Linked DNA regions of Homo sapiens. The protein of the gene in region 4 interacts with the protein of the main gene of each other region in a biochemical or structural test. Each region holds a gene or a part of one and is shown on either strand. Other genes may lie near its edges.

What was found.
Region 1: the proteins of SH3GL2 (region 4) and DNM1 form a complex in vitro, tested with the Homo sapiens proteins (2 studies listed by BioGRID and IntAct, with this or other methods).
Region 2: the proteins of SH3GL2 (region 4) and SYNJ1 form a complex in vitro, tested with the Homo sapiens proteins (2 studies listed by BioGRID and IntAct, with this or other methods).
Region 3: of the proteins of SH3GL2 (region 4) and LRRK2, one has a biochemical effect on the other in vitro, tested with the Homo sapiens proteins (2 studies listed by BioGRID and IntAct).

What each region holds. Positions count from the first base shown.
Region 1 is NC_000009.12:128,198,534-128,206,733, forward strand, and holds the start of DNM1 (dynamin-1), read left to right. Parts: upstream 1-4,845; 5' UTR 4,846-4,937; coding exon 4,938-5,098; intron 5,099-5,652; exon of another isoform or gene 5,653-5,689; intron 5,690-8,200. UniProt on the Homo sapiens protein: Catalyzes the hydrolysis of GTP and utilizes this energy to mediate vesicle scission and participates in many forms of endocytosis, such as clathrin-mediated endocytosis or synaptic vesicle endocytosis as well as rapid endocytosis (RE).
Region 2 is NC_000021.9:32,717,773-32,725,227, reverse strand, and holds part of SYNJ1 (synaptojanin-1), read left to right. Parts: intron 1-7,455. UniProt on the Homo sapiens protein: Phosphatase that acts on various phosphoinositides, including phosphatidylinositol 4-phosphate, phosphatidylinositol (4,5)-bisphosphate and phosphatidylinositol (3,4,5)-trisphosphate. Has a role in clathrin-mediated endocytosis.
Region 3 is NC_000012.12:40,304,790-40,312,244, reverse strand, and holds part of LRRK2 (leucine-rich repeat serine/threonine-protein kinase 2), read right to left. Parts: intron 6,461-7,455; coding exon 6,279-6,460; intron 3,779-6,278; coding exon 3,549-3,778; intron 3,140-3,548; coding exon 3,012-3,139; intron 1,815-3,011; coding exon 1,596-1,814; intron 1-1,595. UniProt on the Homo sapiens protein: Serine/threonine-protein kinase which phosphorylates a broad range of proteins involved in multiple processes such as neuronal plasticity, innate immunity, autophagy, and vesicle trafficking.
Region 4 is NC_000009.12:17,581,996-17,589,450, reverse strand, and holds part of SH3GL2 (endophilin-A1), read right to left. Parts: intron 1-7,455. UniProt on the Homo sapiens protein: Implicated in synaptic vesicle endocytosis. May recruit other proteins to membranes with high curvature. Required for BDNF-dependent dendrite outgrowth.

The DNA.
Region 1 (8,200 bases), about 110 Mb from region 4:
AAAAAGGGCTCGTGTTTTGGCCAGGCACGGTGGCTCATGCCTGTAATCCCAGCACTTTGGGAGGCCGAGGCGGGCAGATCACGAGGTCAGGAGATCGACACCATCCTGACCAGCATGATGAAACCCCGTCTCTACTAAAATACAAAAAATTAGTCAGGTGTGGTGGTGAGTGCCTGTCGTTCCAGCTACTTGGGAGGCTGAGGCAGGGGAATCGCTTGAACCCAGGAGGCGGAGGTTGCAGTGAGCTGAGATCGTGCCACTGCACTCCAGCCTGGCGACAGAGCGAGACTCCATCTCAAAAAAACAAAAGGGTTTTATTTTTTGTGCACTAAAAATATGTATTCACCACACAGCATCTCTGGGAGAAAACCATCGATTACCAGAGCTGGCATAGTGTAGGATGTAAATATGGAAGCTCTGAGTCACACTGACAACCGTCTACATCTTGACTCCATCATTTCTTGGCTATGTGACCTCAGACATGTTCTTTACTAACCTCTCTGTGCCTCAGTTTTCTCATCTGTCAAAGGAGGCTAATAAAACTTCTTTCTCGGCTGGGCACGGTGGCTCACGCCTGTAATCCCAGCACTTTGGGAGGCCGAGGTGAGTGGATCACCTGAGGTCAGGAGTTCAAGACCAGCCTGGCCAACATGGTGAAACCCTGTCTGTACTAAAAATACAAAAATTAGCTGGGCATAATGGTGGGCACCTGTAATCCCAGCTACTCAGGAGGCTGAAGCAGGAGAATTGCTTGAGCCCAGGAGGCAGAGGTTGCAGTAAGCAGAGATCATGCCACTGCACTCCAGCTTGGAGCTGGAACAAGACTCTGTCTCAAAAAAAAAAAATTCTGCCCAGCACAGTTGGTGGTCAAAACTTTGGGAGCTCAGCCATGTATGGTGGCTCACACCTATAGTGCCAGCACTTTGGGAGGCCAAAACAGTAGGATCACTTGAAACCAGGAGTTCAAAACCAACCTGGGCAACAAAGCAAGATCCCGTCTGTACAAAAAAAAATTGTTTTAATTAACTGGGCATGGTGGTGTGCACTTGTAGTTTCAGCTATTTGGGTGGCTGAGGCAGGAAGCCTACTTGAGCCCAGGAGTTTGAGGCTACAGGGAGCTGCGATTGTGCTACTGCACTCCAGTCTGGGCAGCTGAGCAAGGTTTATCTTATCTCTAAAAACAAACAAAAAAACAAAAACAAAAAAGCTTTGGGAGCTCAAGAGAGAGTAAAGAAGCCATTTCTTTCTTTCTTTTTTTTTTTTTTTTTGAGATGGAGTCTTGCTCTGTCACCCAGGCTGGAGTGCATGGTGTGATCTCGGCTCGATGCAACCACCACCCCTGCCTCCCAGGTTCAAGCAATTCTCCCACCTCAGCCTCTCGAGTACCTGGGATTACAGGTGCGGGCTACCATGCCCAGCTAATTTTTGTATATTTAGTAGAGATGGTGTTTCGCCATGTTGGACAGGCTGGTCTCCAACTCCTGGCCTCAAGTGATCCACCCGCCTTGGCCTCCTAAAGTGCTGGGATTACAGGTGTGGGCCACTGCACCTGGCCCTGAGATTCTTCTTTTCAACCAACTCCATGTGATGCCAGGCTGCTGGCCTGGCATCAGTGATACAGCAGTATAGGATACTTAGTATAATCCCATTTCTGTAAAAACAAAATGGAACAAAATGAATATGTGCATATATGAAAAACAAAGCCAGAGAACGATCCCTAAGCTATAGTGGTTATCTCTAGGTGGGAGGATGACCAGAGGTTTTCAAATACTTGTGTAAAGTCTGGTTTTACAATAAGTTTCAATATTGTAATTAGGGGGGAAAAAGTAAAAATAATAAAAGCTGGCTGGGCATGGTGGCTCACAGCTATAATCCCAGCATTTTGGGAGGCTGAGGCGGACAGATCATGAGGTCAGGAGTTTGAGACCAGCCTGGCCAAGATGATGAAACCCCGTCTCTACTAAAAATACAAAAATTAGCTGGGCACAGTGGCGAGCACCTGTAATCCCAGCTACTCAGGAGGCTGAGGCAGGAGAATTCCTTGAACCAGGGAGGGAGAGGTTGCAGTGAGCTGAGATCACACCACTGCACTCTAACCTGAGCGACAGAGCAAGACTCTGTCTCAAAAAAAAAAAAAGAAAGAAATACAAAAAATTAGCTGGGCGTGGTGGTGCATGCCTGTAGTCCCAGCTACTTTGGAGGCTGAGGCAGGAGAATCACCTGAACTTGGGAGGCGGAGGTTGCAGTGAGCTGAGATCACGACACTGCACTCCAGCCTGGGAGACAGAGCGAGACTACGTCTCAAATAAATAAATAAATAGGCTGGGCACAGTGGCTCATTCCCGTAATCCCAACACTTTGGGAGGCTGAGGCAGGAGGATCACAAGGTCAAGAGATCGAGACCATCCCGGCCGACATGGTGAAACCCTATCTCTACTAAAAATACAAAAATTGGCCGGGCGCAGTGGTTCACACCTGTAATCCCAGCACTTTGGGAGGCAGAGGCAGGCAGATCACAAGGTCAGGAGATGGAAACCATCCTGGCTAACACGGTGAAACCCTATCTCTACTAAAAATACAAAACATTAGCCGGGCGTGGTGGCACGAGCCTGTAGTCCCAGCTACTTGGGAGGCTGAGGCAGGAGAATTGCTTGAACCCAGGAGGTGGAGGTTGCAGTGAGCCAAGATCGCACCACTGCACTCTAGCCTGGGTAACAGAGCGAGATTCCGTCTCAAAAAACAAACAAACAAACAAAAAATACAAAAATTAGCTAGGAGTGGTGGCACGTGCCTGTAGTCCCAGCTACTCGGGAGGCTGAGGCAGGAGAATCGCTTGAACCCAGGAGGCAGAGGTTGCAGTGAGCTGAGATCATGCCACTGCACTCCAGCCTGGCGACAGAGTGAGACTCCGTCTCAAAAATAAATAAAATAAATAAGTAAATAAATAATATTAAAAGCCCAGCCATGATGCCCTCTAGGCAAACATCTATAAACTGCACCCCCTCCTGGTGCCAGTCATCCAGGCTTCCATCTCTGCCTTCTCTTGTCCTCAGAGCATAATAACAGGTTGGCATGGAACAGCTGCCAGGTTCCATGCAAGTTGTGTGGCACTGATGCTCCAGCTGTCTGGTGAGCTGTTATCATTGGCATCCTCACAGCTGCAGCTTAATAAGGGCCCCCTGAGCACTAGGCCTGGGCTGTGCCCTACACAGGCATTTGATCTATTATTATCCCCATTATCCAGATTAGTTAACTGAGGTTCAGAGACGTGGAGGGACCTGGGTCACGCAGCTTGTTTAAGGCCCAGATTAGACTCCTAATCCACTCTCTGGTGCTACCAGGGAGAGGGCCTGCTTGTTCCCCATGCCTGCCTCGAAGATTCCTCCCCACAAGGGTCACTCTCTGATCACCATCTTCACAATAGCAACACCACCCTACCCCGCCCCTGCTTTCTTGCTCTGCAGGGCACGCCATCTAACAGGGCCATCGTTATTGCCCTATTTGCATATTGTCTGTCTTTTTCCACTGAATTGTCAGCCACATGTGGGTAAGGACTTTGTCCGTTTTGCTCACTGCTTTATCTCTGGAGTCTAGCATAGTACCTGGCTCAACAAATACGCATTAAATGGATGAGTAAGTGAACAGTCTCCAATTCACAGACCACTTTGTCAGCAGTGCCCCCACACTGTTCACAGCGCAGGGAAATGACTCACCGACTCCCCATGAGCACAGTGTAGGCTAGCCTTCCCTTCCTAGCCTCCACCGTGAATACTAATTAGGTTTCTTAAATGCAGAGATGGACGGCTGGGCTCAGGGCCCCATGGTCTGTCTGTGTGAAAGGGTACGCAGGGTAGGATTGTAGGAGCCCTGGATTTGAATCCCACTGTTTTACGCTGTTTTACCACCATCCTGATGGGTTGGAGCAAAGACTTCCACTCTCTAGGACAAGAGCTTCCAACTCTCCCAAGAAGGGCCCTCCAGGTGTCAGGGCCTCTGCACTTGCTGGTCATTCAGCCTGGCATGCTCTTCCCCTGATCTGCTTGCTGCTGGCTCCTTCTCATCATTTTGGTCTCTTCTCAAATGTCACTTCTGCAGAGAACACCCCCGACTCCTGCCAAGCCAATGTGAACTTTCCACACCCACAAAGATACCTTTTTTCACCCTGTTTATTTCCTCCATCCCTCTTACTATGAATTATTTTCATTTTTACTATTTCATTTATCTGCTTACTTATTTACTGTCTGTCTCCCCAGCTTGATGCAAGATCTATGAGGGCAGAGGCCTTGGCTGTCTTATTCGTTGCTGAATCTTCAGTGCCTAGGACAGGGCCTGGCTTCTAGCAGGTACCTAGTAAATATTTGTTGAATTCATGTTCCAACTTTCTCCTTCTAGAAACAAGGAAACTGAGGACCAAAGGCAGAAGAGGACATGTTGGAGATCAGAGTCAGGATCTAGGGATAGAAGCCAGCGAGATGAAGGGGAACTCATCTCGGAGTTCTGACCTCTGAGGTCAGGAGGCTGTGACCTCAGAGGAAGCCCATCTGCTCTCCAGGCCTGTTTCCTCATCGGTAAGATGGAGTGAAACATCCAGACCACTCTCCAAGAGGCCTGGTACTAGGAGTGAGACCCAACCCATTGACAAATATATTCTGCGCAGCATCCGCGCACCCCAGACACTGCTAAAGCACCCCAAAAGCCGCAGAAGGTGAAAACTACGACACCCATGATGCCCCGGACGGCGCCTGCGCACGGCGGCCGGCCCGCAGCGCCGCGGGCTCCCCCTAGCGGCGTCCGGGAGCGGTGCTCGCTCCGATCCCCGAGGGGCGGGGGCCCCGCGGCGCAGGCAGTCTGGGCGCGCGGCTGCAGCGGCGGAGCCGGAGTCGGAGCCGGGAGCGCTAGCGGCAGCCGGATCGCAGCCTGCGGGGCCCGCCGCAGCCATGGGCAACCGCGGCATGGAAGATCTCATCCCGCTGGTCAACCGGCTGCAAGACGCCTTCTCTGCCATCGGCCAGAACGCGGACCTCGACCTGCCGCAGATCGCTGTGGTGGGCGGCCAGAGCGCCGGCAAGAGCTCGGTGCTCGAGAATTTCGTAGGCAGGTAGGCGCGGCGCGCCCCCAGGCGCCGACCCCCGACCCCCGGGATCCCTGGAGTCCCCGCCCGGGGCACTGACGGCGCGGCGACCTCGCAGCCCCCGACGCTGCACCCGCGGCCGGCGCGCCCCCCACCCCCAGCCGGAGCGAGGAGGCCCTCCCCCCACCACGAGAGCCCCTCGGGGCAGCAGCGCCCCCCGCTAGTCTGCAAACGTCGTCAAGCCTCCGGCTACCGAATCACGCCCCCTCCTCCGTCCCATCCTTTAGGGCAGACAACGCTCTGCCAGAAGCCCCGGGCAAAGAGCTGCCCCCCGCCCCCAACATGGGCATGGAGAGAGCCCGCATTACTCAGCGTCTCCGTTGGGCTCCGGGAGTCCCTTGGAGCGGGCAGCACCCGGGGGCAGCGTCCCCCACACCGGGCTCAATGGGGGACATCCCCCTACCCCCATGGGAATTCCTGGGCCGTGGCAGAGGTCAGCCCCCGCATCCCAGTCCCTAGAAGAGGACGTAGTCCCGCGGGCATCGAGGACCGGGCACGGCCTCCCGCCAGCACACACACACCTCTGCGGCTCCCGCCGCCATCCGTGCGCAGCGCGGCGAGGGGGGAGGCGCGGGCTGCAGGATGAGGAAGGGAAGAGGGGAGGAGAAACCACTTCTTATCCTTTTCTGAGCAGCCGGCCCCTTGCTTCGCCACGGCCCCTGGGTGGGGGGCGCCTGTCAGTGTCGCCCTCCCCTTGGCCTGGCCAGAGGAATCGTGTTGGAGGGAGAGGCGGCAGAGGGCAGAGATGACTAAGACAGGGATGGCGGGAGGGGGGAGCCATTTGCAGAACCTAATCCCCCTCCCGCCTCTGATCCCACAAGGCGCTGAGAGGCCTAGGTGGCGGAGAGAGGAACAACCGCAAAGACAAAGGGTCGTGGGTTTAGCGGGGCAGGCAGGGTCGTGACCCGCAGGCTCCCCACAAACCCCCAAAGGGAGGCAGAAATAGTTTTTCTGGTGCTGAGGAGAGAGAAGAAAGATAGGAGCTCTCCAGGTACTGGAGGTGGGTTGGGGGGCTGGGCAGACTGGGGGATGAAGTGAGAGAGTTTACACTGACCCCGTCTTTCATCTCCCCCCCATCTTCTTCAGAAACTCTTGCTTTCTTCCAATGACCTTCAGGGCCAAAAAAGTGACTGGCACATGGGAGAGGGAGGCAGGGGCCCTTGTCCGCAGAGGTACAGCAGTTCTGTCCAAGCCAGGTTCTGCTGCAAAACCTCAGGCAAGTCACTTGCCCTCTCTGAGCCTCAGTGTCCCCATCTCTAACATGGACAGTGGGACTGGGTGGTTGTTCCTGCCCCTCAAATGTCCTGGGAAACCCATGCCAGCCCTAGAGGTGAGAGGGAGAGGGCCTGACTGGAGCCATGTGTGTGTGGGACGTTGGAAGGCCACCGTGGGGGCGGCCGTGCCCATCTGGTCAGCAGAGGGGAAGGCATCTGTCTCTCCAATGGCTCCTGCAGAGCCCCCCTTCTGATCACATGACCCCCGGAGCTGCAGAGACACAGGCAAGAGACACACCACGGGCCCCTTCCCCAAGGGCCAGCAGTCAGGGATATCCAGCAGTTTAGAATGGAGAAACCATATTCCTACCTCTCGTCCTTTGAATGTTGGCTGAACTCCTGCCCCATGCCAGGCTGCGTGCTTCAGGCTTGGGGTAGGGAGGGGACCAACTGGTGATTTCAGCCCGCATCTACTGAGCCCATCCCATGCATCCCCCTATGCTGAGTCCTTCATAGGCTCACAGGAGCTCCCAAGAGGCAGGTACCATGATGCCCATCCTACAGATGAGGAAACTGAGACCCTGGAGGTTAGATGCCTTGCCCAAGGTCACACATTCAGAAAGGGCAGCAGCTGTTAGACTCCAAAGCCCAATTCCTAATCTCGACGCTGCACATCCTCTGACAGCCGGGTCCTGCACCAGGCACAGGGACGTGTGGGTGGGTGGGCCTCCATTTCCCCATCTGCGGAATGGAAACGCTGACAGCCGCTGCCCTGCCTTCCTGAGAAGGTGACTGTGGGCTCCACCGAGTTCATGGGTGGAAAGGTGCTTTTGTAAACATGCGGGAGGGGGCGCTGATAGCCAATTAGGCTTGGGGACCTGCATGCCCAGCCCCTGCCTTCCTGGAGCCCATGACGCAGGGGCCATCCCTGACCACAGCAGATTTCATCGAGTACTTGCTTGTTGAGTGGTGGAGCAAGGTTTGGACCGTGCCCCAGGAGGCCTGGGCCCTCTGGCTGCCCTCTCCACCCCAATGCCCTTGGCCGTTGTCCCCACAGGAGGATGTGCAGGGTGTCCAGATGCAGGCCCAGGGCAGGGGAGGGGGCTTAGGTTGATGTGAAGGAGTAGGCAGAAAAGCATTCATGATCCTCTGAAAGCTAGTGAGAAGGCCAGGGAAACTGAGGCTCAGTGGGTTCCACTGTCTCAGCCTGCCAGCTCCCTCAAGGGCTCCTGACCTCTCCAACAGGGCTCAGTCCCCAGACTGGTGAGCATAGTAACAGCCATTCTGTCTCCTGGGGCTTCCCAGGAGCCAATCCCCAACAGAAAATGCTTCACAGGAAAATGCATCAGGGCTGCCCCAGGCCCACCCGGGCTTCTGGGTGCTCAGGAGGATCCTGCTGTCAACTCTGCAATGGAGGTAGCCTTGCAGCTGCCTGGGATGCTGCTAGAACTTGTCTGGGTCTATACTATTTCTTCACCCCCTTCCCTTTTACAGAAGGGAAAACTGAGGCCAATTCATTCAGTCATTTAGCAAACATTTGTGGAGGGTGCACGATGTCTCAGCACTGGGGATTCTATGGTGGAAAAGACCAAGACTCTGCACTGCAGAGGGAGAAACTCAGAAGACAACTGGAAAATGTGGTGAACGTCAGGGAGGGGAGTGGGGCTGCTCTCCCCAGGGAGGTCAGAGGTCTCCAGGAGGAGGTGGCATCTGAGATGAGAACCAAGGGATGAGAAGCTGTGTAACTTGCCAGGGGCGGGAGAGTTCCAGGCCAAGGGAAAGGTGCAAAGGCCCCGGGGTAGCAAAGAATTTGGTGCCTTTGAAGAACAGAAAGGAGACCCTGTAGCTGGTATTC
Region 2 (7,455 bases), on a different chromosome or scaffold from region 4:
GACGTTACCTGACTTACTAATCTTGTATAAATTCTAAATGTTTCTTTAATTATGATTACTCATAATAGCAAGTCAAATGTTCAGCTACAAACTGTGTATTACTTATAGTTTTTAGAATTATTGCTACACTTTACTCCAAGGTTAGGAAACCTAAGAATAATAATATTTCCAAAACCTCCAGCAGCCGTCTTTTATGCCAAATAATGGTTTGTTTTTACCAAAAGGCCCTAAAACATTTATTTTGGCATTAATGTGCATTCTAAGGAGAAAGAATATTAAAATATTGTCTAAGCTATTCTATTTTCATTAGATTTAGACTATGTGAGCAATTCAGAAAAAAAATGTTGGAATATTGACTCTTTCTGTAAAGCTAACATAAATGGATGTCTAATCTCTTGGAATGTCATTATCTTTCCTACTATAAGCTTTACAGTAATACTTAACATATTAATATTTAAGAGCTAACAAACCTTCTTAAGTCATTTGACTTTTAAAATTAATTTGGCCTTCATTTTGGAGTGATACCAAGGTTTGTATTGTGCTGTACAGTGTTCACTTAAAATCTTCACACTTTAAAAATGCCTATTGTATTCAGAAGCTGTGCTTGGAAAATATCAATGTGTTCTCTTCATCTTCAATAATCCCAGCTCCCTGAATTTCAGTGCATTCTGCATATTCATCTACCTGAAGAATCTTCTAAAATCATGTTTTTTCTTTGTTTGTTTGCTTGTTTGTTTTTTGAGACAGGGTCTCACTCTGTTGCCCAGGCTGGAGTGCAGTGGCATGATCTCGGCTCACTGCAACCTCCACCTCCTGGGTTCAAGTGGTTCTCCTGCCTCGGCCTCCCAAGTAGCTGGAATTATAGGTGTGTGCCACCACGCCTTGCTAATTTTTGTATTTTTAGTAGAGACAGGGTTTCATCATGTTGGCCAGGCTGGTCTTGAACTCCTGACCTCAGGTGATTCGCCTGCCTCAGCCTCCCAAAGTGCTGGGATTACAGGCGTGAGCCACCGCGCCCAGCCCTAAAATCATTTTTTATATTAAAGCAAAGTGTAACCCTGTTTTTCACCAAGATTAAGTTTGTACTCCTCAACCTGTCATTTGTCCAGTGTTGATCTCCTTTAAGGAGATCTGGTGTTTCCTCAGTGCCTTCCCAAGCACCATGCTTTTTTCAGCTTCATCATACTGTTGCTTTTTACACCTTCTTCCTCCAAGACAGCTAGAGTGCTGCTTCTCTAATCTGAGCCTGTCAGTCCCACCGAGGTCCTACTCAGGTCTTCTTCCTTCATAAGACTCTGCCCCAACCACTCCAGCTCACCTTTATCTCTACCTTCTCTTCATTTCTCTAGAACTTACTCTGTATCACAAGGTGCATACTTCTTTTTTGCTTTTATTTTTTGAGACATGGTCTTGTTCTGTCACCCAGGCTGGAGTGCAGTGGCATGATCACAGCTCACTGTAATTGAACTCCCTGGAACTCCCGGGCTCAATTGATCCTCCTGCCTCAGCCTCCTGAGTAGCTGGGACTACAGGCGCACACGACTATGCCCAGATAATTTTTTTCGTATTTTTTTGTAGATAGGGGGCTTCCTCATGTTGCCCTGCTGATCTCAGACTCCTGGGTTCATGGTTTCCACCTGCCTCAGGCTCCCAAAGTATTGGGATTACAGGCGTGAGCCACTGCTCGCAGCCAAGACGCATACTTCTTATGTGCTGGTTTTGTTGTTGTCTAAATGCTCATATGTAGGTGTTTTTCTTGGAAAGGGGTGGTGGAAGTGACCTTAGCAGGACTTGGTCTTTATGTACACAAAGTTCCTAATTTCAAGTCTCTACTTGCCCTGGCTTTACTTTAAAAAGTAAATTTTAAACAGACATTTTAGTCAGCATACAGTGTTGAGGATTAGCAATCACTTAATTTTCTTGGCCTTTGCTGAAGTGCCATGAGATACCCAACATGAAATTTTGTCTTTCATACTATTAGCACATACCAAAAGATTGCAAGTAAAAATACAATGAAAATAGTCTCATACAATGGATCCCCTTAGGGACCCACGTGTTCACTAATGCAGCCTCAAGACTCTGTCTTTATGTCGATAGGATTCTAAGCTTAAATCAGTCATGATGTTATGACATTATCAGTGTTACAGTCACCTGGGCAGCTTTTACAAATACTACTGTCTGGGCTCTAGCCCCCTGGATATTCTGATATAATTAGATTGTGATGCTCATTTCTGAGCAAAGTGTATTTAGGCCTTTCTATGATAGATTAGGGGATTGCTTTTTTTTGGCTTGCAGATTTTATCCAAAATAACCATGTTTCCAGAATTTTGGTGCTGTTGTCTTTTATGGGGCTACTAAGTAGTTTTCTTGAAACTGTCAGGCTGAACCAAGTGCTAATACTCTTGTAGCACTTTGAGTATAGTGCCTTCATATCATATGGAATTCTGCTCAGGTTCTGTGTCTGGATGCCGCACTCCTTGAGGAAAAGGCCTGTGTGTCTTAGTAATATTTGCAGTCTTAGTGCTTAGTGTAGTGTTTTACTCATACTTGAAGAAAATGTGATTATTAAATGAATGACAGCAAGGGAAAGACTAACCTAGATTACAAAGTTGATAAACATGCAGTTATTATGTTTGAAAATAAGAGATATTTTTCCGTAAATTTTTGTTGTTGTTTTTTGAGCAGAGTCTTGTTCTGTCACTGAGGCTGGAGTGCAGTGGTATGATCTCCGTGCACTGCAACCTCCGCCTCCTGGGTTCAAGTGATTCTCGTGCCTCAGCTTCCTGAGTAGCTGGGACTACAGGCGCACACCAACATGCCCAGCTAATTTTTGTATTTTTAGTAGAGATGGGGCTTCACCATGTTGGCCAGGCTGATCTGAACTCGTGAACTCAAGTGATCCACCTGCCTTGGCCTCCCAAAGTGCTGGGATTATAGGCGTGAGCCACCAAGCCCAGCCCTATAAAACTTATTTCATATACATACATGCATACATTATATATATATATATATATATATATATTTTTTTTTTTTTTTTTCTTTGAGATGGAGTTTCATTCTTGTTGCCCAGGCTAGAGTGCAATGGCACGATCTCGGCTCACTGCAACCTCCCCTTCCCAAGTTCAAGTGATTTTCCCGCATCAGCCTCCCAAGTAGCTGGGATTACAGGCATGCGCCATCATACCTAGCTAATTTTGTATTTTTAGTAGAGACAGGGTTTCTCCATGTTGGTCAGGCTGGTCTTGAACTCCCGACCTCAGGTGATCCGCCCGCCTTGGCCTCCCAAAGTGCTGGGATTACAGGCATAAGTCACTGCACCTGGCCTATTTCCTATGTTTTTGAGAATTGTTATCTGACTGAACTGCTGATATAAAAGATGTATATTACACATTATTTAGATTTGTTATTGACAAATCCTATTGGAAATAACTGTTAACCACATTATTAAGGTTCTTCTGAAATGCCAATTTGAAATGTCTATGATAAATGTTACTTATTATTTCTATAAGTACTATTAATTTGTTTCAAAATTACTTTTTTTTTTTTTCCAAGATGGAGTCTTGCTCTGTCACCCAAGTTGGAGTGCAGTGGTGCAATCTTGACTCACTACAGCCTCCGCCTCCTGGGTTCAAGGAGTTCTCCTGCCTCAGCCTCCTGAGTAGCTGGGACCACAGGCGCCCCCCACCACACCTAGCTAATTTTTCCTTATTTTTAGTAGAGACAGGGTTTCACCATGTTGGCCAGGCTGGTCTCAAACTCCTGACCTTGTGATCCACCCACCTCAGCTTCCCAAAGTGCTGAGATTATAGGCGTGAGCCACCACGCCTGGCCTTCAAAATTACCTGTTTAAAATAGAAAATAATTTCATTATTATTTCTTCTGTTGCATTGATTTATTTAAAACACTTTCTAAAAAGTTCTTACCCTTAGATAACAGTTAATATGTTTTTTAGGAGTGTACCCATTTTTAGCATTACTCAGTTTTGAAAAGTATTTGTACAGCAAGTGTTTGATTAAATTGCAATTTGATGTCTTTGGAATAGTGGTTCAGTGTAGCAGGTGAGCTCTGTGACTAGTTTGCTGCATCTACCAGTTTAAGCAGCTTGTGTGATGGTTAGCAAGTTATAAACAGGTACATATTTTTTTCCTGGAAACAATTTATTAAGAGATAAAAGATGTCTCTCAGCTTTGTGTACAATTCATTGTTCTTAGTCTTTCTCCAGTTTACACACACATACACAAAGACTGTCACAGGAGAAGGACAAGCTGTCAGTCTGACATACATGCATTAAATTCACAATCTCAATATTTTACAGCCCATCTCAGGCTTCAATAAAGTGAATGATTCATTTCATAATTATATCCTAAATAGAAGATGGAGTAAAGAAAAGGTCAACATATGGGAAATGGAGGATAACTCTAAAAACAGAAGTTATGGACCTCTACGTAAAAGATGGGGAGGTGAGGTGGCGCCATGGATTCCTAACTCTTAAAATTAAAGCTTTTGCTCTTTTCCATATTACATGCTAGCATGGGAGTAAGGATGAATTGCTTTTATCTGTCTAGTGGTAAGATTACTTTCAGGCTTTTCAAGTAGCATAATTTGAGTCAGATTAGGACTCAAATCATGCATTTTATAAATAGCAAGGCCATATCACTGCACCTGGTTTTCCTCCAAGTTGTCCTTATGAGATTCTTTGTCTACCTAATTTTTTCTTACAACATAAGTCATAATACTATATATAATACTCAATATAAGTCATAATACTATAGGATGATATTCTGAGATCTTTATTACAGAATATGAAATATCCTCTCTTTTCTATAAAACTGCGTAAAGGACTAATCGTAGTGAAATGATAATGGCTACCACTTACTGGAAGCTTATTCTGCCAGTCACAACATTAAGCCAGAGGTTTTTAAACTTCATTGTTTTATGGTGACCTTATTATCTCATTAAGTTGTTTTTGTTTTTGTTTTTGTTTTTGAGAGGGAGAGTTTCGCTCTTGTTGCCCAAGCTGGAGTGCAATGGTGCGATCTCGGCTCACTGCAACCTCTGCCTCCCGGGTTCAAGCAGTTCTCCTGCCTCAGCCTCCCAAGTAGCTGGGATTACAGGCATGTGGCACCACGCCCAGCTAATTTTGTATTTTTAGTAGAGACGGGGTTTCTCCATGTTGGTCAGGCTGGTCTTGAGCTCCTGACCTCAGGTGATCTGCCCACCTCGGCCTTCCAAAGTCCTGGGATTACAGGTGTGAGCCACTGTGCCTGGCCTCGTTAAGTTTTTCACAACACCCCTAGGCCACAAACAATACTTAATAGTTCTGTTTATTAAATAGTTAGGTCCAAAAAATATTTGTGTCCCAACAGCTTTTGTAGCTGTTCAAAAAAAAAAATGCAGAAAAAATAGAACATTTATTTTCTTCATAAGTAACCACAATTTACTAATGAGATGTGTGTGCTTGTTGAGCACTGAGCACTAAATAGCTTTTCTTTTTCTTTCTTTTTTTTTTTTTTTAAGATGGAGTTTTACTCTTGTCACCCAGGTTGGAGTGCAATGGCACGGTCTCGGCTCACTGCAACCTCTGCCTACGGGTTCAAGCAATTCTCCTGCCTCAGCCTCTCAAGTAGCTGGGATTGCAGGCACCCGCTACCACACCTGGCTAATGTTTGTATTTTTAGTAGAGACGGGGTTTCACCATGTTGGCCAGGCTGGTCTCGAACTCCTGACCTCAGGTGATCTGCCCACCATGGCCTTCCAAAGTGCTGGGATTACGGGCGTGAGCCACTGCTCCCAGCCTGCATAGCTTTTCAAACCTTGGAACAGAGTACACTGCCGTCCTCATTTCCTGTTCCACATTGATTTTCAAGTGACACTTGCTTTTATCACAGCAACCAGCAAAAACCCGGTTTCACTAATATATATCATCCAAGGAATGCACTGCAATCTAATATGACAACTCAAGCACCTCAGGTTAATAGTTTGGCTGGTTTCCAGCATGTGTTGAGAATCTCAGTGTTTCCTTCTGTTTAAAATATGCAGCTTCCCTGGGAGTTTGCTGTAGTGCCGTGGGGCATCTGAGCACACAGTTCAGGAGATGTGGCATTTGACACACTTTATTTCATTCAGTTCAGATTGTGCTTTTATCCACATTTCAGAGATTTGGAAACTGAGGATTGGAAAGATAACTGCCCCAATGACATAGTCCTACCATTTAATTTTTTTTTACTGTAATTATTGTTTGTGCTGTTGTGAGGCTATTGTATTACCATATATTGTGTGGCTATTATTTTCAGGGGTGGGGAATGAAGTGTAAAAATAAGGGAAGGCGTTAAGGTTAAGAGTGTAATTGGTAGCATTTTCTAATGAGGGAACTGTACACTTGTGTTTTTCCCTACAAACTATTAACATATTAATATATTAGAGGAGAAAGTATGGTTTAATTTACAGTAAAGTCATTAAAAACAAAGTTTCTTTCCTGGGCCAAGTTAAATGTCAGGTTCTAGACTTTTGGATAAATATAGTAGGTGGTAATGCCAAACAGTGTGTGTAGTTTGTTTTTTTTTTTTAATTGCCAAACGCTGTCAACATGATTGCCCTTTAGATAAGTTGCAGTGTCCTGTCTCTTTTAAAGAAAAATTTGCAAGTTGAGGGAAGAAGTGACTTTTTATAGTTGACTTTTTCAGCAGAGAAATCATGAAATTTAGACTTGTTATATATCACTTTATGTTAGGGTTGCAAAAATTCATTTTCTTTTTATAAATACCTTTGGAAGGTGCATATTTATTTTCTTTCTTTTTTTATGTGCCCCTGTAGTCTGAGGAATGTACGTATTTAATAGAAAGTAACTTAAATGTCAACTCTTTAAAAAGAAAATCAACCAAACTTTTTTATTCTGGGTTGGTAGTAGGATTGACCTAGGGTCAAACCAGTAGTTAGTTCTTAAGTGCTTTCATTTCTTCACCACTTAACTTTGCTATGAGGAAATAAAAAGGAAAGGCAGAACTTCCACTCTCACTGAATAGTAAAAACTCTGTGGCTTTTTATTACATCATCTCAGGTCTATCAGATGTTCTAACTTGTCCTATAAAATATACGTAACTCAGGACTATAACGGGAGCTTCTGACCATAGTGGAGTAACAGGAACTAGATTTACCCTCCTACCTTAAGTAACAACAACAAAATGAACAAAATACATGGAATGATTTGCAGACCTTGAACAAAAGGCAGCACAAGATGCTGACCCCTGAGAGAAGGGAAACAAATGAGGTGGGTTTTATGAATGCTCCAGCTTACTGCCTGGAGAGCTTCCAGGCCACAGCAGCAGAAGAGTCACTCAAGCAAAGCTTGACAGGATTCCTGAGTAGGGAATATGGGGAGGCCAAGGCAGCCAGAATCTCAGGGCTGTGTACTAGAGATGAGACAGTTGCACAAAGAGCTCCAGAGATCTGTAGAGG
Region 3 (7,455 bases), on a different chromosome or scaffold from region 4:
GTCTTCAAAGGTGATTTATAAGTGCCAAAAGAAAAACTAGTCTGACTTATTGGTAATGATATCTATTAGACAAAAGCAGTATTAATACAGCTTAATGAACCATCTTATCTGTGACTTTGCATCAACTAAATTCAGGCCTTTTCAAAACAAACTCATCCTCCAACAAGTCTTTTTAAAGATATGATACATTCTCTGACAACAATGACAAAAAGGGAAACTCAAAATATTCTCAGTAACAACAAAGTTATTGAAGTATGGGTATAGTCTCAGAAAAAAAAAACACCTGGATTAAGAGATTAATTGGATGAATAAATTTTGTGTATTTGTTTTTCTTTAAGTCATATTAGTTTCTAATTACATGTCCAACAAGAGAATAGGAAAGTCTACAAATAAATAATATGTCATTTTTACATGACATTACCATCTATCATCAATAAAACCTTTTAATAACTGTAATAAATGTGTGTTGAAGGATACAAACATACAAATTCTCTCCCTGGGCACCGCAAAAGCCATCACTTTTACAAATGGCTCATTAGGTTTTGGAGTGAAGCACACATAATCTATATAAATGGAACAGAACTAAGCTAACTGGCCAGCATGGAGTTATAACCAAGGTGACTATATAATTTATCATCCAAATTGGAATGCTTTTGAGAATATAGTGGGACACTATTACATAATTATGCTGGGACTGCCCAGGCCAAATAGGACTCTATTTATCAGCCAGTATCTTGATCATTAGTGCTATTGAGCTAAGCCAAGACAGACTAAGTGAAATTCATCATTATGTTTGTCATATGGAACTATCAAGGGTATTTTTCAGTACAGTTTACACCACACTCCCTGTAGTACCCAGTGAAGATTTCTTTTTTCTGCCAAGTATTTAAAAAAAAAAGTGTTCTCTCTGATAACTGATTTATTTACATTTTATAAAAATTTGGCTTACGAGAAGATAACTTTAAACATTTAAAACATAATTCCTAAAATAAAAAGCCCATTTTGTATGAACTAAGTAATTAGTGAGACACTGCTGAAAACCAAGTTAGTGGTCTTCATGACTAAATAAAACAGCTGCCTCACAATACGGAGGGAAAAAAATTGGAATGGGAATCACAGTGACAAAATTCATGAATGAGTGGCACAAAAGATCAAGATGTCCATAAAACAGGAATTCCAAAAGAAAAGAGGAAATGGAAAAATAACAGTTAAAGAATAATAGAAGAAAGATGATCCCAAGACCTCAGTATTCACCTTTACCCTTGTGATTGAATCACCACTATAAGAAGTTGAATCAGAAAAGGCATCAAAAACATTTTCTCAGATTCTCTCTCAGAAACATTTTCTCAGTATCCCAGAAACGGTCTCTTAGTTTCTCTCAGGTTCCTCTAATTATTTTTTGTTCCCATTTCTATGAATTAGAAATGAAGTCTGGCATAAATAATTTTAAAATGGAAAGGACTTTAATAATGCTAACAGCAACAAGGAAAGAAAACCCACAATTTTAAGTGAGTTGCTCACTTCTCAAAATTTCTGACATTTCTAGGCAGTTGAGAATCAATAAATTACATTTCTCTACCAGCCTACCATGTTACCTTGAAATTAAGGCTCTCGTTTATGATGGTTTTCCGAAGTTTTGCCAAAGCATCAGATTCCTCGGTGGCATTCACAAAGTGGTAATCTCGTATGGCAGGGAACCCTCGCTTATTCAGGAGTTCCTTGGTGATTTTACTCATGCAGGCTTTGCGTTGCTTCTCATCAGAAACATCCAAATGTGTGCCAACGAGAATCACAGGGGAAGAAGAAGCGCGAGCCTGGAGGGAAAGACACAAAACCCTCTTGTGTTTGCTTTCAAACTGGGCCTGCTCACATTCCTGTTGATATTTGCTTTCCGTGACATTCACTTGAATGGAAAAGAGAAACTAGCAGACTTCAGAAGAAGAAAAGAACAACTGTCCTTTTTTCCTTAAACCTAAGAAAAAAATGTAACCTTACGACATTTTAAAAAGTCATTTTTGGCCTTTCTTAACCCAATTCTTCACCCTTTTAGGTGGCATATATAACGGTAGTGGTATAGTTTTCCTTTCCCATCTTCATGCCTTAAGATGAGTTATTCACTCCTAAATAAAATAAGCATTTCATAAACCCACAAATTATATCAAATTAACGTCATATAGTTTATATTTTCTCTTCCTTATCTGTGAATTTAATCTTCTAAATTCGTTTTAAAGTCAACCAATTTGGAGTCTACAATGAAAGAATAAAAGCCACTCAAGCAAATATGACTGCCACTGTACTATTTGCTCACGTTGGCTAGCTGTAAAAAAGTTAATAAAAGAAACATTAAAAAATACCCAAATTACAAAACAAGCATGTATGCAGCCAATTACATGGTTAAATGTCCTGACACAAGCTTTTTAAGGACTTTATGCACAGAAGAGTTCATTGCAGCATCATGCAAGCAGCAGTTTAGTCTCCATTCTAAAAAGCCATAGTGTTTGAAGGAATAGCTGACAACAAGACAACAAAGGAAAAGATAGAAAAGCAACAAAAGGGAGATTCCAGATGTAACAGCATAATAATCTGGGACCACTTAAAGGATACAATCTGAAGAATTTCACACTAAATGGCCCCTGAGTACAAAGTTGATGAGATATATATATATAGATTGCTTTTCTTTAATATAGCTTATTTTAAATTAGAAAAATTTAGATTTCATTTAAGAAATAATATAATTAAAAAACAGTTGAACATATATATTTTCAAGTTTTACAGCATAAAAGAGTTTCAGGTTACCAATAACATTCACCAACATGGAACATACAATTTTCATGTTATGACTTCATTACTCGGAAAGTTTCCCAATTCAAAATTTTAGTGCTTCTTTTAAGAAAGTATTTAAAGAGACTGAAGCAATTGTTTGCCCAAAATAAATTAACTTACACACACACACACACACGCACACAGACACATGAATTATTTTCTATTTTCAAATGATCAGAACAAATCACCTTTATATTGAAGAGCCAAGGCTTCATGGCATCAACTTCAGCCTGTCCCTTGCTGAGGTCATAGACAGCAAGGTACAATGCTCGCTGCGTCATAAAATGGGGATGAGTACTATAGAATTCCTCACGACCTAAATAAAGATTAGAGACAAATTTTTTTAATCTTTCAAACGACAGGCAAGAATCCTTTTTTAAAAAAAAATCTGGGAGAATAATACTATTTATTATTTAGCATACTAATAAGAGAAAAACAACAGACCATGTTTAGAGAACTATTCTGGGTTTTTACTAGGATTGACCACTTTTAGCATATTTGTCAGCAACCGATCAAAGTACCTAGCACCAAATTGTTCCTAACATATCCCTCCATGTTCTTCTCCATTCTGGAGGCAAGGGTAAAATTAGGAGAAATGAAGGGCTTTGGAATAATTCCATACAGTCTACCAGGTTTCTGGATATTAGAACAGAAAGCTCAGTTTTTGAATCCCTGTTCCAAACAAATGGTAAAAGTGAATTTTAAAATTCTATAGAAAGAAATACCTGCAAAATCCCACACATTTAGGACGAGATCTCTCTTTCTTTTGTCTCTTATTTGGATAGGCCAGTCTTTCACATCTATGCCAACTGTGGCACTTTGCATTCCAAGATCTGATTTCTTGGTTTTCATTAATTGCTGCAATAAGGTGGTTTTACCACTCCCAGTATTTCCCACAATCATAAGTTTCATTCGGTTATAAGGCACAGCCTTTTTTAATCGCTGTTGAAGAAACCTAGTATTTGAAAGATAAAAATAAAATAATAAACTGCTTAAAAGTATACTTGAGATTTAGGTGAGTTCTTTTACATGTCACACTATTCTAAAATATAGTATCCAGAAGAGTGCATATCTCATATAACTAATAATGTACATGTCTTTCAGAGTACTGTTAATGCATATATTTTGCTAGAGATTTTAGGGTAGTTGATAATGTTTGGTAAAATCACCAAAGAAAACATGTTACACTATCACCAGAAATAATCAAAAGGCCAAAATATGTTTGCAATACTAATTAGAATACGATATGCAATATATATATACCTCTATATATACACACATATACATACATGTATACATATTCTAATGTCTTTAAATAGTATGAAAAACCCTACAAATTATACGCCAGGTGCGGTGGCTCGCACCTGTAATCCCTGCATTTTGGGAGGCCGAGGTGGGCGGATCATGAGGTCAGGAGTTTGAGACCAGCCTGGCCAATATAGTGAAACCCCGTCTCTATTAAAAATCCAAAAAGTAGCCGGGAACAGTGGCAGGTGCCTGTAATTCCAGCTACTTGGGAGGTTGAGGCAGGAGAATCGCCTGAAGCCAAGAGGCAGAGGTTGCAGTGAGCCAAGATCAGGCCACTGCACTCCAGCCTGGGTGACAAGAGTGAAACTCAGTCTCAAAAAAAAAAAAAAAAAGAAAAGAAAAGAAAAGAAAAACCCTATAAATTATAAAGTTCAAAATTTCACAAAGTCCATATGACATAGAAACAAGGTAGAGATATATGTATACTGTTAAAGCTTGATAATAGGGTCATATTAGTTACATTATATATGTGTGTGTATATATTCATATATGGTATATATGATGTATAGCTATATATTCATGTATATCACATATGCATATAATAGTATATATGGATAGTGAGATCACATAACATCATAAATAAATATAAACTATTATACTATCAGCAGATGTTAGCTTTCATTCCTAATGATCTTAATGTAAAACCTGAATGAAATAGAAGTGTTTAGGTAGCTAAAAAACCACCTTTAAACTAATAGTAGAGTCAAAGTGTTATCAAAAATATAATGGATAGAGAAAGATATATTTTGAAATATGTTAAAATGTTGCCACAGTTTCAAATTAGAGAAAAAGACTAAATCATAAGTGAATTTTACATCAGAGTAGTGATCAATTCATTCCTGTAACTAATAAGAATCTGACCAACATTCCTGATGATATGACCAAAAAGCAACATTACCTTTCTTGATTTATTTCTTAAGAATGCACCACTATTTGAAAAAATGTCTTTCTTCAAAAAGCAAATGATGCCTACAATTTCTAATCTGCTCTAGGTCTTTCTGTCTTTTCTGAAAATGTTAAACATGTTTAAAAATATTTAGTTATATATTAAATTAAATATTAAATATTAAAAATATTTAGTTAGATAATACAGTATAATACACTGAAAGCTAGTTCTACTAAATGTTTAGTAAGAACTGAACCAATTTTTATATGACCATCTTTTCCAGTTTCAAGAGAGAAAAATAATTGGGTAGGATGAAGGGTAGCCACAATTAGCACAAAAGATAACAAACTCCTTTAAAATGAAATCAAGCTCAGGAGTTCAGAAAACAAAATCCTTCCTCATAAAAACAGATGAAGTTAAATATAAATTTAAGAGATTTTAGGCAGAAGAGAATGAGTAAGTATAAATCACTGGTAATTAAACAACTATTAATTGTATGCCAGGCACTGTGTTGGGTGCCAAGATTTGAATAGTGAGTGAACACAGCCATGGTCTCTGCCTTGGTGGATATTACAGTCAAGTTGAGAGGTGATGACAGAGCTGAGGTCTGCAACGTTAATACAGTAACTGTGGAAAAGGGAGCAAAGGATTTTATGAGAAAGTAATAAGACCGATGTGCTGAAAGGGAACAAAAAGGAGGATAAAATCCATTACCAAAGATATTTAAAGTGCTTAAAGTGTAAAGACCAGAAACAGTGATACTTGAGAAGTTTTGGTGCTTTCAAAACTGATCAAGGTGAGTAGATTACTCATCCTAATGGGCAAAATAGAAGTTAGTAATTTCACATGATGTCAGTAGCTATAATGCTTTAAGATGTAAGAGGCATATGTTAACTAGTTGCTATATGAAATACAGTGTGAGAAGTTATTATACTGTGCTGTATTTCTTTAGATTGTGTAATTGGTAACCAGAGACCAAATAGCAATACTTATTTTCTTTTAGAGTCTACTCCACTGAAAAGAAACAGAAGGAGGAGAAGCCGCTCTCAACATTAGTCTGGCTAAGAAGAATGAGAAATCTCTACAGTGGCACCACAGAAACACATTCATTAAATGAAAGGCAAATGACACACAGCATATTAATGCCAAATATTACTATTTATTTTTCCCTAAATAGTAACAATATATGTCCATCAAAGTCACAGAGAGTAGAAAATCTGAAATAAATTTAGTAAAACCAAATAGAAAAAAATTATCTAACCTTATGATGTCTTTGGCTTTACATCCTATATGTTTAAAATCAAAGTTAAGATGCAGTTCATCCAAAGGAAGATCCCATATTTTGCTTAATTTCCCCATTTCATTGGGAAAGGATCTTAGTTCCAAGTTGTAACTGACATCCAGAGATGTCAGATTTTCAAGACAGCCAATCTCAGGAGGAATCTTAATGGGAAAAAAAAGGGCAAAACCTGTTGGTGGGAAGGAAGAAATGTGCTCTGCCAAAAAACGTGATAAGAAACAAGAAAGGCTCACAGATTCCATCAGCAGCTTGCACAACCTTTCAACAGAGTTTTAAAACTTTCCAAAGGTTTGTCATAAGTTGTCAGTATGTGTTTAAAAACATAAAAACTTACATATAAAAACTTACTCCCAAACAATCTATGTCACTCATCTGTAATATTAAAAAACCCAATCTCCTTTGGTAACATACTTCATCTCTTCAAGACATTGAAAGTAAGGAAGTTCTTACCACAAAATGGATTTGGTTATCCATTATCTGTGACTTCATTCTGCTCCTTCAGTAAAGGCAAGAAGACCTAGTCACTACAAACCTGCATGCAATTTAGTGTTCTCAAAGTACAGCTACATGCTTATACTTTAGGTGGCATCCTAATTGGAGTAATTTCTTTTCTGTTCCAAATTTTTAAGCAATATATACTATATTTATAATAGAAAACACTCATTTGCTGGCAAAAAATCAGGTAGCAAAATATATGCACAGTTTTGCTGAACCTCACAGTGTCAGACACTTAATTCTTTTGGTTTTTGTAGGCAATACGCTAGAACTTGAAAAATAATATTTTCTGAGACAAACAAATTATCAATTTCAGATTTACAACAGAGAGAATGGAGCAAAACAAAAAAGGTTGATCCATTAGGGTGATAGCATGGTGGCGGAATGCAGAAATTTAAGAATGTACCAAGGAAAGCTGAAAAACAAGTAATACAGTATACAGGCCAGTAACAACTTGAGAAAAATGGTTTATTTAAGAGTCTGTTAACAGATTGGACAGAGATTTGGTGATACAATGACACACAGCATCACATTCATCTATAATTATGTATATATTCATATAATCCTTTAAAAGTATATCACAAAAGTAATTTTTTGAGGAAATTATGCTGTGTTACCATATCCATTTACCATAGGGTAGGCT
Region 4 (7,455 bases):
ACTGATCAGGAGCCACAGAAATAAACTTGTGCCTCATCAGAGAAAAACATCTAAATATCAAAAAGCCAAAGCACTGTAGAAAAAAATCTATAAAATAAAAAATATATTAAAAAGGCACATGGGCCAGGCATAGCGGCACACGCCTATAGTCCCACTACTCTGGAGGCTGAGGTGGGAGGATTGCTTGGGCTCAGAGGATTGAGGCTGTAGTGAGCTGTGATCGCCCCATTATACCCCAGCCTGGACGACAGTTTCAAAAGGCACATGGAACATACTGAGCCTTATGTATTAAGAAAAGACTTATTCAGCAAACTAGACTTAAAATTCATATGTGCATATGTATGTTGTGTATGTACATATGGACATATGCACATATACATACACTTACAAGCTCACAAATAGATTAATATACAGACACACAATTAATTAATTATAGGCACCAGTAATAGCAAAACTGCTAGCTTTTTAACCAAAAACCCACTTTTACATCCTGGGCACATAGCTAGGCTACACTTGCCTTCTTCCATTTCTCTTAGGTGTACCACAGAGGGGCCATGTTACAAGTTCCAGCCAACCAAACATAAACAGAAGGAACTATTCCTTCTCTTCATTTTCAGCTGTTGTATAACAAATTACCACAAATTTAGCAGCTTAAAACAATACCCATTTATTATCTTACAATTCTATAAATTAGAAGTCTGGGCCTGCTTAAGTGAGCTCCCTGTTGAGGGCCTCACAAGGCCAAAATGAAGGCGTTGGCTAGACTGGGCTCTTATCTGGAAGCTTGGGGGAAGAATTCCCTTCCTCTCAGATTCTTCAAGGCTGTGGGTCTAAGATCCCTATTTTCCCTGCTGATGGTCACCAAAGAGCTGATTTCTGCTCCTAGAGGCTGCCTGCATTACTACTCACATGGCCCCTCCCTCTTTAAACCAACAACAGCATGTCCAGTCCTGCTCATACTTCCAATCTCTCTGATTTTTCCTTCCACTACCAGCCAGAGAAAATATCCTGCTTTTAAAGGGCTCATGAGATTAGATTAAGTCCAATCATATAATCTCCCTTTTGTCTTACAAAGTTAAAAGTCTCAGGAATAACATCTTTTCAAATTGAACATTGCACCCACACTCAAAGGGGAGGAGAGTACACAAGAGCAAGAGTCACCAACAATCGTAGCATTCTGTCTACCATATTCCTCTTCCAGGCCTGGCTTATGAACATCTCCCATGCTTGTTCAAACATATTCTTTCCCTTTGGCAACCTTGAAAACCATATGTTACAGATGGCAGAACCGATCCAGGGTCATCCTGAGTCCCTGAAGCAAATAACGGGAAATATAAATGAAAAAGACTTTGAGCAACAAAGTACCATTAAGACTTCTTGGTTAAGCCAAAGTATCAGGCCCTCTTGTTAAGTTCAGAGTAACACAACCAAGTCTACTGGATGAAAATTAGGTCTAAAAAAGAATTTCCATCATAGAAATTGGCAAATGAAACTCACAAGAAAACACATCAGAAGCCTATTAAGTTGAAGTTTTTCTGGTTTTTTTTTTTTGGTTTTTGTTTTTTTGAGACAGTGACTTGCTCTACTGCTCAGGCTGGAGTGCAGTGGTGCAATCTGGCTCACTGCAACCTCTGCCTCCCAGGTTCAAGCAACTCTCCCAGGTTCAAGCTTCAGCCTCCCGAGTAGCTGGGACTACAGGCGTAGGCCACCATGCCTGGCTAATTTTTGTAGTTTTAGTAGAGAAGCGGCTTCACCATGTTGTCCAGGCTGGTCTTGAACCCCTGGCCTCAGGTGACCCGCCCACCTCGGCCTCCCAAAGTGCGGGGATTACAGGCATGAGCTACCGCACTTGGCCAGAAGCCTACTAAGTTTATGAAGAAATTTCATTACTCAAATCTACCATGGATAGTGAAAACCCTATGACTGTAAAACAATCCCCAAATTTAAATAAACAGGAAGTTGACTGAAAAGTTATGCCGTTCCCAAAGAGGGCAGATTTCCTCTAACCCTCCTTAGACCTGGCCAAATATATATAAGAAAGAACAAGAGTTCTTCCCAGATTGCAGAGCCAGATTGTAAAACCAAGGAACTTCCTCTACTGGCAGGCAGGGGATTTCACAATGCCCCCTGCAGGATGCCATCACTGTTATGGACAATAACTGTCCTGACTCCCCTTCTCTCCTTTCCTCACTGGAGTCATTCACTGTGGACATTATTTCCTGTACTTTTTGTTTTGTTTTGTTTTGTTTTTGAGACAGTCTCGCTCTGTCGCCCAGGCTGGAGTGCAACGGTGTGATCTTGGCTCACTGTAGCCTCCGCCTCCCAGGTGCAAGCAATTCTCCTGCCTCAGCCTCCTGAGTAGCCAGAAATACAGCTGTGCATCACCAAGCCTGGCTAATTTTCCCATTTTTAGTAGAGACGAGGTTTTGCCATGTTGGCCAAGCTGGTCTCAAACTCCTCAAGTGATCTGCCTGCCTCGACCTCCCAAAGTGCTGGGATTGCAGGCATGAGCCACCGCACCCAGCCGATTTCCTGTACGTTTAAAAGCATAGGCTATCTGCTTTATGTTTCTTTCAAGCATTATTCTGTGATACGGTTTGGCTGTGTCCCCACCCAAATCTCATCTTAAACTGTAGTTCCCACAATCCCCATGTGTCATGGGAGGGACCTGGTGGGAGGTAATTGAATCATAGGGGTGGTTACCGCCACACTGTTCTCGTGATAGTGAGTGAATTCTCACGAGAGCTGACGGTTTTATAAGGGGCTTTTACCCCACTTTGCTCTGTACTTCTCCTTGCTGCCGTCATGTGAAGGACATTTTTGATCCCCCTTCTGCCATGACTGTAAGTTTCCTGAGCCCTCCCTAGCCATGCAGAACTGTGAGTCAATTACACCTCTTTCCTTTATAAATTACCCAGTCTCGGGTATGCCTTTATTAGCAACATGAGAACAGACTAATACATAGCTTGATATTGAGATGTTTCTCAGCATTATAAAACTGCTTCCATTAGTATCTATGGGGAAAGGTTAGTTTGAATTATAAAAAAGATATTTCTATTTTTTATATATATCATAATTCAAAAAAAGGCAGAAAACACTGCCTAGAGGTCCTTCAGTGTCCTAAGTATCCAAGTAAACCTCCATGGAGCTGTGGGTTCTTCACGAGTATTACAGACAGCTTCTCCATATTCATTACTACTATATACAATTTGACCCAGGGGATGGCGGAGGGAGATTAGGGTAGAGCAACTACAACATCATATTTGGCATTTAGAAGTTGTACTAAATGTAAAACCTTTATAAATAGTGAAATTATTTCCTGAAGCATTTGTCATCAGCTAATGATTTAGTATAGCATGAAAATATTTTGTTGGTAGAATGCAAAAGACTTGGCAGGGTCTCACAATCATGGCATTTTAATAAGTATAGTTATAGCTCTCTTTAGTCTTTATTATCCATCGGATACCATGTACATCATTCTTAAGCTTTTAGGCTCCTTAAGTGATTATGGAAACAATAAATTCTAAACCAAAAACACTGAGAAGGGTTGTACTACAAAGTTTCAAAACTTCACATGTTGTCTCCTGCTGCCTCTTGCTGCCTCAACATTCATTCCCACATACGCTAACTGTGAACACCCCACCCAGGTAACCAGGTGCACAAGTTTGATAAGGTTGGCCCCTACCACAAGTTCACCTCTCTGTCTTCTTCTGACCACGACCTACCAATGCACCAATGCAACGCACTGTGAACTGCACTGAGCTGTGAACTGCACTGAGATCACTAGTAAAGGCACTTGCCCACAGTCCTTGCTCTCTCTGCTCCCACCTGTTTCCCACCTGCTTAGCTGATCCTGCTCTCAGAGCTGTCACCTCCACCCCACGTGTCCCCCCTCCTATCCTCCTGTACAGTGATTGTCATTCTAAGACATGTGAGTATAATAAACTCTGTTTTCTTGAGCCTCTCCTATGTCCCCTCTTGTGGCTACACCTCACTGAACATTACCTAAAAGAACACAGGACAAGGGTACGAAGGATTAAAAGAACAAAAAGAGAAAAAAGGAGGCCAAAAAATCCACTGACTTCTTACCTACTTAGCATCTCCCCTATCTGGCCTTAAATTGAGAAGAATTGCTCATCTCTAGAAAGCCCCATCAGGTATCCACCTTAAAGTTTGAAGCAGTTCTTAAACTCCATCTCCTCACCTAATTCTCATTATTCATTTGTCAGTGTGTCCTGCCCTTCTCTCGCCGCTGCCTCAAGCTACTCCTCTGAAGAAAGCCCTCGGGTTGCTTGATGCCCTGAGACTCTGTATGCAGCACAAGAGGCTTGGCAGAATGGAATCTGCTCTGCAAGCTTCAGCTCCCTTCCCCTGAATATTAAACCTCTCCCTTCCACAATGACATCTGTCTCAAAACAGTCACCATTTGCCCCAACCAAGTCTTGCCATTTTCTAGGGTACTTCTAATTAATTTGCAGGTTACTTTAAAATTTTCTAAGTAGACTGAAACCAAAATTCATATAAACTCAATTTAAAATATTAAAGAATCACTATGGGGAAAAAAGCTTGCAAAAATATAGCTGTTTCAACAACACAAACTTCAATCACGAGGACTCTCAGTCTACAGAGAAATCATTTTCAGTCACCACTTTCTTTTCATATACCCCACAGGCCCGTATCGTTGACTTCAAGCGCATTAACAACATTTTGTTTTACATGGTTCAAGTGATCCTTATTATGCAAGCATGGCACTCTCACAAGCATTACCTCATTCAATCCTGACACCTCTGGAAAGGTTTTTTACATTTGATTGCTGCTAAATTAATGCAGAGAAGGCTGCATTTTGATCAGGCATCCTAAAGCCCAGTAACAGAACTGTTGGAGTGATTATTGTAAGAAACATCCACTTTCTCCTGATGACATGATGAATTTATTTATTTATTTATTTGAAACAGAATCTCACTCTGTTGCCCAGGCTGGAGTGCAGTGGCACCATCTTGACTCACTGCAACCTCGGCCTCCTGGGTTCAGGCAATTCTCCTGCCTCAGCCTCCTGGGTAGGTGGGATTACAGGCACCTGCCACCTCGCCCAGCTAATCTTTTTGTATTTTTAGTAGAGACGAGGTTTCACTGCACTGGCAAAGCCGGTTTTGAACTCCTGACCTCAAGTGATCCGCCCGCCTTGGCCTCCCAAAGTGTTGGGATTACAGGAGTGAGCCACCACGCCCCACCCTATTTTTACTTTTCGAGGGGAGGAAGGGGCAGCAATTAGGAATTTATTTAAGAATCTGGTAACAGGCTAAGGGCATTCTCCCTCAGAAAAATGCATGTATAAAATGTTACTTATAATTTTATAAAATATATAGGCCCCTTGCAGCCTATTAGAGACTACTGGCTAAGAATGTGAAAGGGTACAGGTGTAGAAATCCTGGGTCAAGCAACAAGCCACAGCCAAGATTTTAAAGGCAGCAGAGAGTTGACTGCTTAGAGGCAATTAAGAAACTGAAAATCTCACTGAGATAAAGTCATAACTAATTAGATATTTAATCCAATACTTAGTAAGTTTAACATCTCACCAAATCAACAAATGCATGAAAAGACTTATGTAATGGTCTCCTGAGCAAAGCATCCATATAAAATACAGCATTCTGAAAGAGGAAATTAGGTAAAACAAAAAGACACAGAACACAAACATGATGAAATTTTCCCAGTTAAGGAATCTGAGTGTGACAAATAAACATATACCAGACTGTATCATAAAACCCAGCCTACCCAAATTAATTTTATCATTTAAAAAAATCAGAAAACACAATTTATAATAGGTATATTTCTGACTTAGTCTGTTCAGGCTACTAACAAAATATCTTAGACGGGGTAATTTATAAATAATAGAATTTATTTCTCACAGTTTGGGAGGCTAGCAGTCCAAGATGAAGGCACTAACAGATTTGTGCCTGGCTAGGGCCCACCCTTTGCTTCAAAGATGGTGCCTTGTTGCTAAACCCTCACACGGTGGAAGGGGACAGGGTGACCCCTTCAACTTCTTTTAAGAGAGCACTAATCCCATTCATGACTTAATCATGAGTGCCCTCATGACTTAGTCACCTCCTAAAGGCCCCATTTCTTAATACTGTCACATTGGCAGTCAAGCTTCAACATACGTATTTTAGAGGGACACATTCAGAACTTAGCAATATACTAACCAACTCATTAAAAAAGGAGAAAGTATATCTTTTTGATGCAATAGAAAGTTATATGTTATTTATAGGCTGAACTGTCCTCTTAGATGTTGAATCAAATATAGAATACTGTGGTTAATCCTTTTATGCAAATAACGACTGTTATGGATTGAACTGTGCCCCTCCCAAAATTCATATTAAAGTCCTAATTACAATAGCTCAGAATGCAACTTTATTTGGAAATAGGGGCATTACAGATGGTAATTATTTAAGATAAAATCATACTGGAGTAGGATGGGCTTGCCCAATCCTATATGACTGGGGTCCTTACAAAATGGGGAAATTTGGACACTGAGACACACACAGGGAGAATGTCATGTGAGCATGAAGGCAGAGACCAAGGTGATGTATCTACAAGCCAAGGAAGCCCAAAGATTCCCAACAAAGCACAAGAGCTAAGAAGGCAGCCTCGAATAGATCCTGTCTCATACCTTCAGAGAGCTCGTGGCCCTACTGGCACCTTGGTCTCAGACTTCAAGTGTGCTTGTCTCAAGAAGTGGGAAACAATGTATTTCTGTCGTTGAAACGACTCAGTTTGTAGTACTTTGTTACAGCAGCTCCAGCAAACTCATAAAATGACCTAATATATTTTACTTTATAATAGACTTTTACATATTGTAAAGCAAAATGTGTCCACATCATATGCATGATAGAGTGAATTTTTAAAAATACAGATTTTGTAGGAGCTTCATGTTCACTGGAAACAGCTATTTTTAACTAAGCTGCTGCCAGTTTAAAACAAGTGTAAAAAAACTGACATGACTTTTGTAAAATGAAATCTCAATATGAATAAAACTCACTAAAAGAGCAACACAAGATCATCTGCCCTTTATTACAGTAAAAAAAGAATACTTTATTCTAATTATACAGTAAATTATATCTTTATGAGCAATTAAGTAATGAAGTACATGAAAATAAGATGATCAATCAATTTTTGGTATCATTATATATTTTCATGCTGAAAGGATTTTCTTCTCTAATAAATTTTACTTGGCAAAAGCATTTTTTTACCTCCAAATTGTAAACATATTGAAAATAACTGTCAGCAACAAGGTAGAAATAACCAATTCTAATATAAGACAACAGTTGTGACACATTTAATCAGAAATTCCAAGTACAAACAATATACTGTTTTATTTATCATCGCTTACTAACACAAGCAAAAAAGCTCAATTCCATAGAAAGAAACGTTTGCGTGAACAGACTCCTTCCACTT